Linked DNA regions of Homo sapiens: region 1 is linked to region 2. Evidence: fine-mapped expression QTL. A gene starts in region 2. The other region holds a variant in brackets. All regions are shown on one strand. Distances are between the middles of the regions.

The links. PIP is the estimated chance that this variant, and not a neighbour inherited with it, causes the effect.
Region 1: its variant is fine-mapped to the expression of LINC01250 in thyroid (GTEx, PIP above 0.99).

Annotation. Positions count from the first base shown.
Region 1 is chr2:3,103,377-3,108,753 of GRCh38, forward strand. The region is part of intron 3 of LINC01250 (long intergenic non-protein coding RNA 1250); the gene reads right to left. Among named protein-coding and RNA genes, the nearest start is that of LINC01250, 20 kb to the right of the region's middle. RefSeq lists enhancers at 1,144-1,851, 5,319-5,377. The variant T/C (reference allele first, on the strand shown) is at 2,250.
Region 2 is chr2:3,123,184-3,128,560 of GRCh38, forward strand. LINC01250 (long intergenic non-protein coding RNA 1250) reads right to left here and starts at 2,843. Exons shown (of 7, transcript NR_110228.1): 1 at 2,644-2,843; 2 at 2,379-2,472; 3 at 2,112-2,255. RefSeq lists a silencer at 4,224-4,388.

The DNA of each region.
Region 1 (5,377 bases), 20 kb before region 2:
CTCCACCCTCTGCCACACTCCTGCTAGTAGGCTGCTAACACCAGGCTTAAATCCCAAGCAATAGATCAGAGAGTTTTGCTAGGAATCACTGAACAGCTTCGGAAAAAGCACCTCTAGATACTAAGACTCACCTGTCACACTACCCCATAACCCGACTCTGAGGTCAACCAGTTGGCAAACTCTGCCATGCACAGGGAGCTTCCAATAAATGTTTAGTTCCTCGCTGTTAAATATGAGCAGACAGCCAAGCATGAAATAGAGAACAAAAGGGGAAACAGAATCAGGAGGAAACACATGATAAAACAAACACAGAAAAATTGAAGAAAGATTTATATACAAGAAATGCTCTCAGACTAGGGAACTATTGAATTTGCTTTTTTTTTTTTAAGGAATACAAGAGAATAAGAAAAAGAAAGTTCTTTAAAAATTAAAATGATGATAGATGAAATTCAAAGGACAAATTGGAAAATAAAGTAAAAGAAATCTGCTAGAGATGAAGAATAACAGAGAAAATGTTAAAGATGTAGAGGATTAGCACAGGCTGTCCAACATCTAACTAATAGAAACATCAAAAAAGAGGATGGATGGAAGGAGATGATCAAAGAAACAATACAAGACATTTTTTCTCACCTGAAAAGCCCCACTGAGTACCCATCGGAGTAAATGAGGGAGGATGCACGCCACTGTGTATAAAATTTTAAACAACCAAAATAAATAAATAAAAGATCTTAAAGACTTCCAGAAAGGAAAAGCAGGTCACATGCAAAGAAAAGAAAGAGAGTGGCGTGTGGATTTCAGCAGCACCAGCTTCTCGAAAACCATGGAGCCTCGCTTCAGCTTTTGATTTCTTCAGCCAGCAAAATGATCACGTTGCGTAGAATAAAGCCATTTCCAGGTGTGCAAGGACTAAAAACACAGTGTTTTAGACTGGACTCAAAAAAGAGCATAAACAAAAAACAAATGAATGAACAAAAGACAGAGAGTACAGGACGCAGAAAACCCAGGGTCCCAGAGCAGGGAGAGGATTCCCGGGACCGTGGCAGACTCATTCCCAGGGTGACAGCCACGGAGCGGGCTGAGAGACAGCAGTCCAGGGTAGGCAGAAGGGGTGGGTTGCCCCTCCACACCTGTGGGTGTTTCTCGTTAGGTGGAACGAGAGACTTGGAAAAGAAAGAGACACAGAGACAAAGTACAGAGAAAGAAAAAGGGGACCCAGGGGACCGGTGTTCAGCATACGGAGGATCCACGATCCACGCTGGCCTCTGAGTTCCCTTAGTATCTATTGATCATTATTGGGTGTTTCTCGGAGAGGGGGATGTGGCAGGATCATAGGATAATAGTGGAGAGAAGGTCAGCAGGTGAACACGTGAACAAAGGTCTCTGCATCATGAACAAGGTAAAGAATTAAGTGCTGTGCTTTAGATATGCATACACATAAACATCTCAATGCCTTAAAGAGCAGTATTGCTGCCCGCCTGTCACATCTCCAGCCCTAAGGCGGTTTTCCCCTATCTCAGTAGATGGAATATACAATCGGGTTTTACACGGAGACATTCCATTGCCCAGGGACGAGCAGGAGACAGATGCCTTCCTCTTGTCTCAACTGCAAAGAGGCGTCCCTTCCTCTTTTACTAATCCTCCTCAGCACAGACCCTTTACGAGTGTCGGGCTGAGGCCATATCTCAGGCTATCACATGGGGAGAAACCTTGGACAATACCTGGCTTTCCTAGGCAGAGGACCCTGCGGCCTTCCGCAGTGTTTGTGTCCCTGGGTACTTGAGATTAGGGAGTGGTGATGACTCTTAACGAGCCTGCTGCCTTCAAGCATCTGTTTAACAAAGCACATCTTGCACCGCCCTTAATCCATTTAACCCTGAGTGGACACAGCACATGTTTCAGGGAGCAGGGGGTTGGGGGTGGGGTTACAGATTAACAGCATTTCAAGGCAGAAGAATTTCTCTTAGTACAGAACAAAATGGAGTCTCCTATGTCTACTTCTTTCTACAGAGACACAGTAACAATCTGATCTCTCTTTCTTTTCCCCACAGTAGACAGAAGGGCAGAAGGCCTGAAGGAGAAGGATCCAACGTGAACAACAGCAGAAACTAACGAATCAGTGCTGGGAAGGTAGCAGCAGTGGTCACATAGTTTTTTACAATCTCTTCAAATCGCCAATAAAAACAGTAACTTGATAGCAGAACCAAATCCAAGCAGATAACATCTAAAACCACGCCTGGCGATGAAGTGCA[T/C]TCGTGTCCCAGGGCTAGTGTAACAAAGTGCCACAAACTTGGCAGCTAAAATGATGGATATTTCTCTCTCACCGTCCTGGAGGCCAGAAGTCCAAAACCAAGGGGTTGGCCTGGCTGGTTCTTCCCAGAGGCTCTGAGAGAGACTATGCACACACACCTCTCCTTTAACTTGGCAACCCTTGACTCTCCTTGCCTTGTAGATGTACCACTCCAATCTCTGCCTCCATCCCTGCGTCTCTGTGCCAAACCCCCCTCTCCCTTCTCTTCTAAGGACACCAGTCATTGATTTAGGGCTGCCCTAAATTCAGGCGACCTCAATTGAATTGCATCTGCAAAGACCCTGTTCCACGTCAGGTCACATTCCCAGGCACTGGCAGTTAGCACTTTGACATTCCCCAAATTCCGATCTTTGCGGCCTCGGCTCAGTGGGACCGAGGACAGTGGGACCATCTTTGGGTCGGTGGGACCCCACCAGGCTCCCTTGGACTTCCGCTTGTGGTGCCACAGGGAAGCTGTAACCGGGCTGAGAGCCAGGGAACTATGGGGCGCACACCTCCTCCTCTTCCTTGGAGTCTTGCACTACCTGTTGTTCACACCTGAAATCAGTTGCCTCATAAATGTTGTCCAATTTTATGGTTGTTTAATGTGGGAGGGTGAGTCCAGGACCGAGGACTCTGTCAGAGCTGGAGACCAAAGCCCACCCAATATCCCTGCAGAAGCTCCTTTTCACCTGAGCTCAGCCAGAACAGGCTTCTATTGCTGGCAGCCAGGAGCCCCGCCTGAGCCGCGTGATAAATAATGTCCTCTAGAACCTCCCTGGAGGCAGGTTCCAGGGCACCTCCTGTGGCCCCTTGGGACCCATGGATCGCACAGAGTGCAATTCAGCAGGGGAAGTTTTCTGTACGGAAGGAAAGATAGAGAGAAAATGTATATATTAGGTTGGTGCAAAAGTAATTGCAGTTTTTGCCACTGAATGTAATGGCCTATCCTCCTACAAGGCCGAGTTTAGGGAGACATTTCAAAGATCCAGAGCAACAGATTCCACCCTACAGAATTCATGGATAGTCACATCCTGGGAAACCATGGAGCTATCGCGAGGGTCCCACGAATCCATGTGATCCTAAGAATTCGCTATAGACTCAATACTGGGCTGTTTCCAGGTATGCACAGAGGCTGCTGCATTTTATAAAATAAAAATCCATTTTAAAACTATAAATAAATGCACGATGGTTTTAGTTTCCTTTATGCTTTATTCTCAATCAACAAATGTTAAAACGTGGCCAGCAATAAGTGGGGCTTTGGGGTCGGGGTACTGAAGGTTTTTGAGATCATGAAGGATGCTTTACCTTCTGCATCAGGAAGTGCTGACCTGGATGCGCAGGTGGGGGGCAGCTCGGCACCCCCCACCTGGAGATGGTTTCTATCCACCTTTAGGGTGCCCTGAGTACCCCTGCTCGCTGAGAAGAATCTGGGATGCAGGTCGTGGGCAGCTTGGCACTCCCCCCACCGAGATGGTTTCCATCCACCTTTAGGGTGCCCTGAGTACTCCCTGCTTGCTGAGAAGAATCTGGGGTGCAGGTCGTGGGCAGCTCAGCACCCCCCACCCGAAGATGGTTTCCATCAGCCTTTAGGGTGCCCTGAGTACCCTCTGCTCACTGAGAAGAACGTGGGGTGCAGGTCGTGGGCAGCTCGGCACTCCCCCCACCCGAGATGGTTTCCATCCACCTTTAGGGTGCCCTGAGTACCCCCTGTTTGCTGAGAAGAATCTGGGGTGCAGGTTTCTGTGCTGTTCATGAAAACAGGAGTCTATGCCTTTATTAGCAGTGGCACTGAGGGAGGCGGCCGATATCCCCTCACGAAAACTAAAGAACTCATCCGGAACGTCTTGCTGCGGAGAAGCCATCCCACCTCTCCTTACAGGCACCCACCAGTAATAAGCCCCCTCTGGAAAATCCTGGCTGTGAATTCCACTTGATGTGTCATGCCTGTGTCTAGTGCGCGTACCATCAAAAAACGTCGGCACATCCAACTCTTGGCAGCTGAAAGCTTACACAATGCAAGAAAAGGAAGGCCTTTCCTGTGAACTCGCGTGAGGATTTGCCTACCTATCGTGGCTGTGTTTGACTCCTGCACACCTAGAGAGCTACGCTGGGGCGGGGGTGAGGCGCTGACAGACCCACTTTGCAAAAGCCGCCCCCACCAAGTGGCTGGATGCTGAAAGGACAGGCGGAAGGAGGGTGAAAGGACGGGCAGAAGGAGGGTCTTCTCTCTAGAGATAGGGCACTGGAATCTCAGAGACAGTCTCTTCACTTATTTACACCTCAGTTTAAAAAAGACGGGGAAAGAAAAGACCAGACCATGGATAGAGAAGGGAAGAAGGAAAGAGGGAGATCGAGGGGAAAGGCAGAGACAGCAGAGGCAAGACAAGGGGAAGCCTGGGGGTGAGTGAATGCTGGAGAGGGAGGGCTGGAGAGAGCAGCGCAGCCTCAGGGAGAGCAGGCCCGCCACCCCTCTCCGCTCCACTTCCACTTGCAAAGAGACCCGGGAGGCCTCAGGGCAGCAGCCACTAGACCCAGGTCTGCCAAGCCCTGTCCACCTCAGAGGGTCTCGGGAATTCTATGATTGTCCAGACAAGGCCTGTCCCAGCAGAGACCCTGGCCAGACCGAGGAGGGGCCCGGAGGGCAGGAACCCCGAAAGGGCCCCACAGCCCCACTCGCCAGCATCCCTCACCCGCCCCTGGGGTCAGCCCTGCAGCAGCCTCGGGGCTCAGCTGTGAAGCAGGGGTCCCACAGTTCCTGCAGGGGAGCTCTCAGGATTCGTTATTTGCATTTTATTTACACGTACGTGTCTTCTTCAGGTGGCCTCACAGTGTATGACTTACGCCTTTTCCTGCTCTTGAAAAATGGGTTTAAAATGGGTTTACATGTATTATTCTCAACATATCAACTCCCAGAAAGATCTGGTCTGCTCAGTGTGGAAGGAAAGGCAAGGGCAGCTTCACCAGACTCCTGATAAGACCCTCAATCATCTGCTTCCAACTCAGCTATTCAGTTACACACATGGATTCTTCTCCAAATCGCTAGCATGGCTCCAACAGGAATGTGGCTGCATGGTGCCAAGGTCTCAT
Region 2 (5,377 bases):
GTGAAATTTTGACATTATTCAAATTTGATATCATCGCTTACCTAAGAAAAATAATGTAAAATTATACTAATTTTTAAAAAAATTTTAATAGGAACATAAAAAGCAGTCGTTTTCCTACATATCAGCATTAACAGTTAGAGAAACAATGGGAAAAGAATTCTATTCACAATTTTAAAACTGAGTACCTGGAAATTAATCTTACAAGAAGTCTGTCAGGCTCAAATAATTAAATCCATAAGCCCAAGAGAGCACCATAGAAAATATTTGAACAAATGGAGAAATACAGTATATTCCATATCTAAAAAGAAATATTAAGAAGATGTACGTTTTTGCCAAACTAATTTATGAATTTGATGCAACTCAAACTTCCAATAGAATTTTGTAAGCAAAATTGATTATAAATGTTGTCTAGAAAAATGAAAAGCAAAAAAAAGCAAGGAAATTTTTTAAAAATAATAACATGGATGCGTATAGGATACTTCAGGCTGAAATAAAGTGGCAATAAGTAAATGGGTGAAGTACTAGGGCAAAAATACACACAGTGATCACTAGACTAGAACAGAGACCCAGAAACATGCCCAGTATATACCAGCAGTCAGCCTAGACAGTCATCCCTGGATCCCCACGAGGGACTGGTTTCAGGACTCCCTGCAGGTACCAAAATCTGAGAATGCTCAAGTCCTGATATAAAACGGTGCTGTATTTGGATAAAGTCTACACACATCCTCTCATATACTTCAAGTCATCTCCAGATTACCTGTAATAGCTAATACAACGCAAATCCCACGTCAATAGTTGTCATTAGAGTGTATCGGTTTTATTTGTATTAGTTTTTGTTGTGCTGTTTTTTTTTTCCTGAATATTTTCCATCTATGGTGATTGAATTGCAGGTGTGGAAGCTGCAGATAGGAAGATCAACCTTAACACTGTTTGGCACTCACATCTGCGGGAGGCCGAGCAGAGACCCAGAGCCCAGGTCTCACAGCCAGGCCGTCCAGAGGGAGCCCTGTTTCCATCATCGAGCAGCTGTGTGACCCTGAGCAAGTTCCTTAACTTGGCTTTGCTTTACATTTCTTCGCCAGTCAAATAAAGATAATAATATCTCTCTTACTGGGTGGTTGTGAGGATTATATAAGTTAATAGATGAAAAGCCCTAAAAAGAAGGCCTGCACATATTAAGTTCTATAGAAGAATGTATTAAAGAAAACAACTAAGTTGGGTTAGAAAAATTAGTTAATTGGGAGGACAATAAATCGGCTCCATTCATGCTCGCACTACACACCCTGATGGAATACCAGGTTCAGCTACAAAATAGAATTACTAAATAATAATAGAGAGCAGATAAAACACGTGATCTTGCAGCAGTGACGTGTTTTGAATATGACGGGGTGTGGGGAGATTCGGGGATGGGGAAACACAAAGCTCTGGGAAATCAAGAAAAGCAGCAATTCCTAGAGTCAGTTGCCCTCGTAACACAGCCAGGAGAGCTCAGTCTATGTTTAAGCTAAATATGATAGAGTGTAACATCTATACAAATGTAAGGGGAAAATCAACAGGTCTGGGTAAAAATAATTTCTGGAATAAGATAAGGTATTCCTGCATTCTCAGTCTTTAGTCTATGAAAACCGTCAGAAAATAAAAACGGGAAAACTAAAATGCCTCCCAAGAATGCCATCCTTTTTTTTTTAACATTAAAAACATTCTCTAAGGAATAGAGTTTCCTCATTACTGCTGTGAAATCCACATGAATACTAAAGAATGTATGTTTTCTCCAAAAAGAGTGTGTGCCTGAACATAAGATTACCACGCACGCTGCGATGAGCTGGGAACACCATCTCATCTCTGCACAGAGCCGCCGTTTCAAAGACGCAAGAGCTGGGAATCTCAGCAAATCAAATTGCACAACATGAAGCGCTGTCTCTATCGCGCGGTTAGCTTACTGCTATCATTTGTGGGAAATACGAGGCGCTAAAATTCTGACACCACATTCCTTGCAGAGCCTTGCAACGGGAAGAAGAAATGGCACGGCGTGAACCCAGTCTCTCAAATGAGTCGGCCAAACCTTGACAATTGATCTAGCGCCACTGCAGTTTATCCCACAAAAGCCTTACCCTAAGTCCAGCGGATCCCCACGCAATCTGAGAGTGCCAGGCAGGCCCCATTATTCCAGGACCACAAAGGGAGCCCGTGCCCTTGGCGAGGACTCCAGGGCTCTAAAGATGACTGGATAGCAGCAGCTGTCACAAAGCCTGTTCCTAGGCATAACAGAAATTGGAAAAGTTTGTTTCCAGTGCCTCTGCACACTCCCCACCCCACCCTTCAACACCGCCTTCCATCGTTCCCCTCCACCCCCTTGCGTGCAGCAGTTTTTGCTGTACCTAAAAGGACTTGTTTTGCAAGTGAAGACTTGCCGCCAGGAGAAGGACGCTGCCATGACAGGCGCTTTACACACGTGTTCTAATCACAGCTATCCTGAAAGACAAACTATGTTCGCATCCTCATTTTACAGAGAAAGACATGAAACCTCTATGAGTGAAGAATTTGCCAAAAGGGGCCCTGCCTCAGCCCCCTGGGCCCTGCCATACTCCAGGAGAGACGGTCAGCACCCTGGGTCCTGGGCAGCCATGGAGGGAGGCCACACACCTTCCGAGGCATCCAGTGCCACCACAGACACAGCGCCTTCTCCTCTGCCCAGACCTGCCCCCTGCTTGGGGCTTTTGGACCCTCTCCCCACATCCAGTGTGCCTACTGTGTTCTCTCCTCGGGAGGACCCTGTTGTCTGCTAAGGTCACAATGACACCCAGTGTGGAGGCAACGTGGGTGGCTGGTGACTCTTTCCTCATGCCACACGCTCAGCACGCTTCCAGGGAGCCCTTGATGGGTGGGCCCAGCGCTGTTCCCACGGCACCAAGAGAGACAAGGTCTCCACCAATACAGCGTGAGCAGGGAGGGGGCAGACGAGGAAGGACAGTTCTGTGTCCCAGCATCAGTGACTGGGTTTTAGATAAGTAGGTCTAGGTCTCCTCTGGCCTCTTCCACCCTCTTATGTATAGATCCATACCAAATTGTTTAAATGCCCTGACTCTTCATCTGTAAAATAGGGCAATGACCGCCCACACTGCTCCTGCTGCCTCTTCTCAACAAGGGGGTTGTGCAGATCCGAGAGGGAAGCCGCACACAGGAAGGTTGTTGAGATGGGAGAGGGAGACCGCGCAGCTTACAGGTAGATGCTGCTTCTGAAGCTGCTGGCGGATTGGGGTGCGCGTCACAAGGTGGAGTTTGCTTTTAGAACCCAAATGACAAAGATCTCTGAGTTATAAGCACCTCTCACCTCAACCAGCAGCAGCAGAGGGGGCTGAGTGGTCATCACAGGGTCTCCTAGGAACACAGAGACGACCTGGCCTGGCCCTGTCCACTTACTGCCGGTGAGACCCTGGCCATGTCACTTAATGTCTGGCAAACTCACTTTTCTCACCTGTAAAATGGGTTCCTAGCCCTGCCTCGCCTGCTTGCTGGGTGGTGAGGATCACAGCCTGGACTGGGAGATGGGTGGGGCGTGCATGAATAGGCAGAGAGGAAATGAAAGGCTGCTCCAGCTTGCCCAAGGGCCAGAGACGGTCCATGCTTGGTGTGCTGGAGTTGGGGCTGAGAGAGAGACAGTGTTATTTTCCTGGAGATAGGACTTCTTATTTCGCTGGAGTACCCAGCTTTGGACAGGAAATCACTTGTTCATTGTTATCAGCCTGGGAGAGGAAATAAGGGCCCACATCTCTGCACTGCTTGCCCTGGAATGTGATTTATTGGAAACACTGGATAACTCATAGATGATAAAAACAACTGAAATGAGGCCCTGGAAGCTGCTCTGGCCTGAGCTCAGCGCAGCCCTGAGGCAGCAGCCGGGCAGGGAAGCCTGAGAGCTGCTGGGGCCGCAGGGACTCGGCCACGTCCAGCCACACAAAACAAACCAAACGTTTCGGGCGATCCTGGGGCAGCATCCTTTCCTCATCCTGCCTGGGCCAGGAGCCTGGGGCTACGAAGTCGTAAAGACTTACCCAGTGCATTCTGTCCAGAATCAGGGGCCCCTCTCAAGAGAAAATACAGCATCACAAAAGTCCACACGGAGGCACATTGGCGGCTGTCATGCTTTGTTGATCCCCGTGACAGATGCTGAAACACCAGCTAGTAAAATGGACACTTTGGGGCTGACATCTGCTGCTGTGCCTGTAATGAGCACTTCCTGTATGCAGGCAGCTGGGTGCCAGGCACAGGAAATCTACACAGGCCACAGAATAATTTGATTTGGGCTTTCTACGGAGTGCGCGCCGTCTCTGAGCTTTCGTGATTTCATCTTCCGGAAGGCGAAAATCATCCCTCTGCTGAATTGGGTTTTGATTTGCTGGTGTTCACCTGACAGGACGCATCTCCCGCGAAGAAGCAGTGTTTGACTCCGTGCTGCAGGGTTGTTTTGTCTCCGAAATGCAAACCAGCTACTTTTTTAATCCCATGGAGACCGTCCAGACACCAGACATTACTATATCCCTGGAATTATTCCCTGGGCAGCCGCAAATGAAGCTGGGAAGAACTGCAGTGGAGGGTGGAGGACGGAGGGTGGAGGGTGGAGGGTGGAGGGTGGGAGGTGGGTGACTGGGAGCATTTCCTGTGGTGGAGGAGCTGATCACACGTACAGGAAGGGAACACCTGGAGCCCTGGCTGGCAACCCTGTCCAGACTGCACTCAGCATCCACAGCAGCACGCACAGGGCAGCAGGAGTGCTTCCTCAGTGCAGAGAGCACCAGAGCTGCCCCACCTTCTCCTAGCCATCTGCAACTACTGGCCCCCAAGGAGAATTAAGAAGAACTCAGAGGAGCTAAACTCACCAAGATTGAGCCAAAGTCCTCAGGACACGCCAGAAGAGCCTCCATTAGCTCTGTCCCAGATCCATCCTAAGGGAACAGTGCAGAGGCAAGAGGCAAAGGGCCAAGATGAGGCCCCAGCACCTTCTTCTTGAACATGTGGGGGCCAGGAGACAAGAGCCACACCCTCACCCCAGCCTGGTCTGCAGGGTCTGTCCTCCCTGCTTGGTTCTTCCCTAAGGCAACTCACAAAGCCACTGCAGACAGCAGGACTGCAGTTTTTGAGCCAAAAGTTGAGACACAGGTTTTGACAATTTAAAAAAAGATTTTTCTCATTAGTAAATATATTTGAGATGTTAGAAAGAGGTTTCACAAATCATATTAATTTATATGTGAATTAATATATTTTGTTAAATAACCTCTCCCTGGGTCCCTCCCACAACATGTGGGAATTCTGGGAGATACAATTCAAGTTGAGATTCGGGTGGGGACACAGCCAAACCGTATCACATGACCAAGGCAGA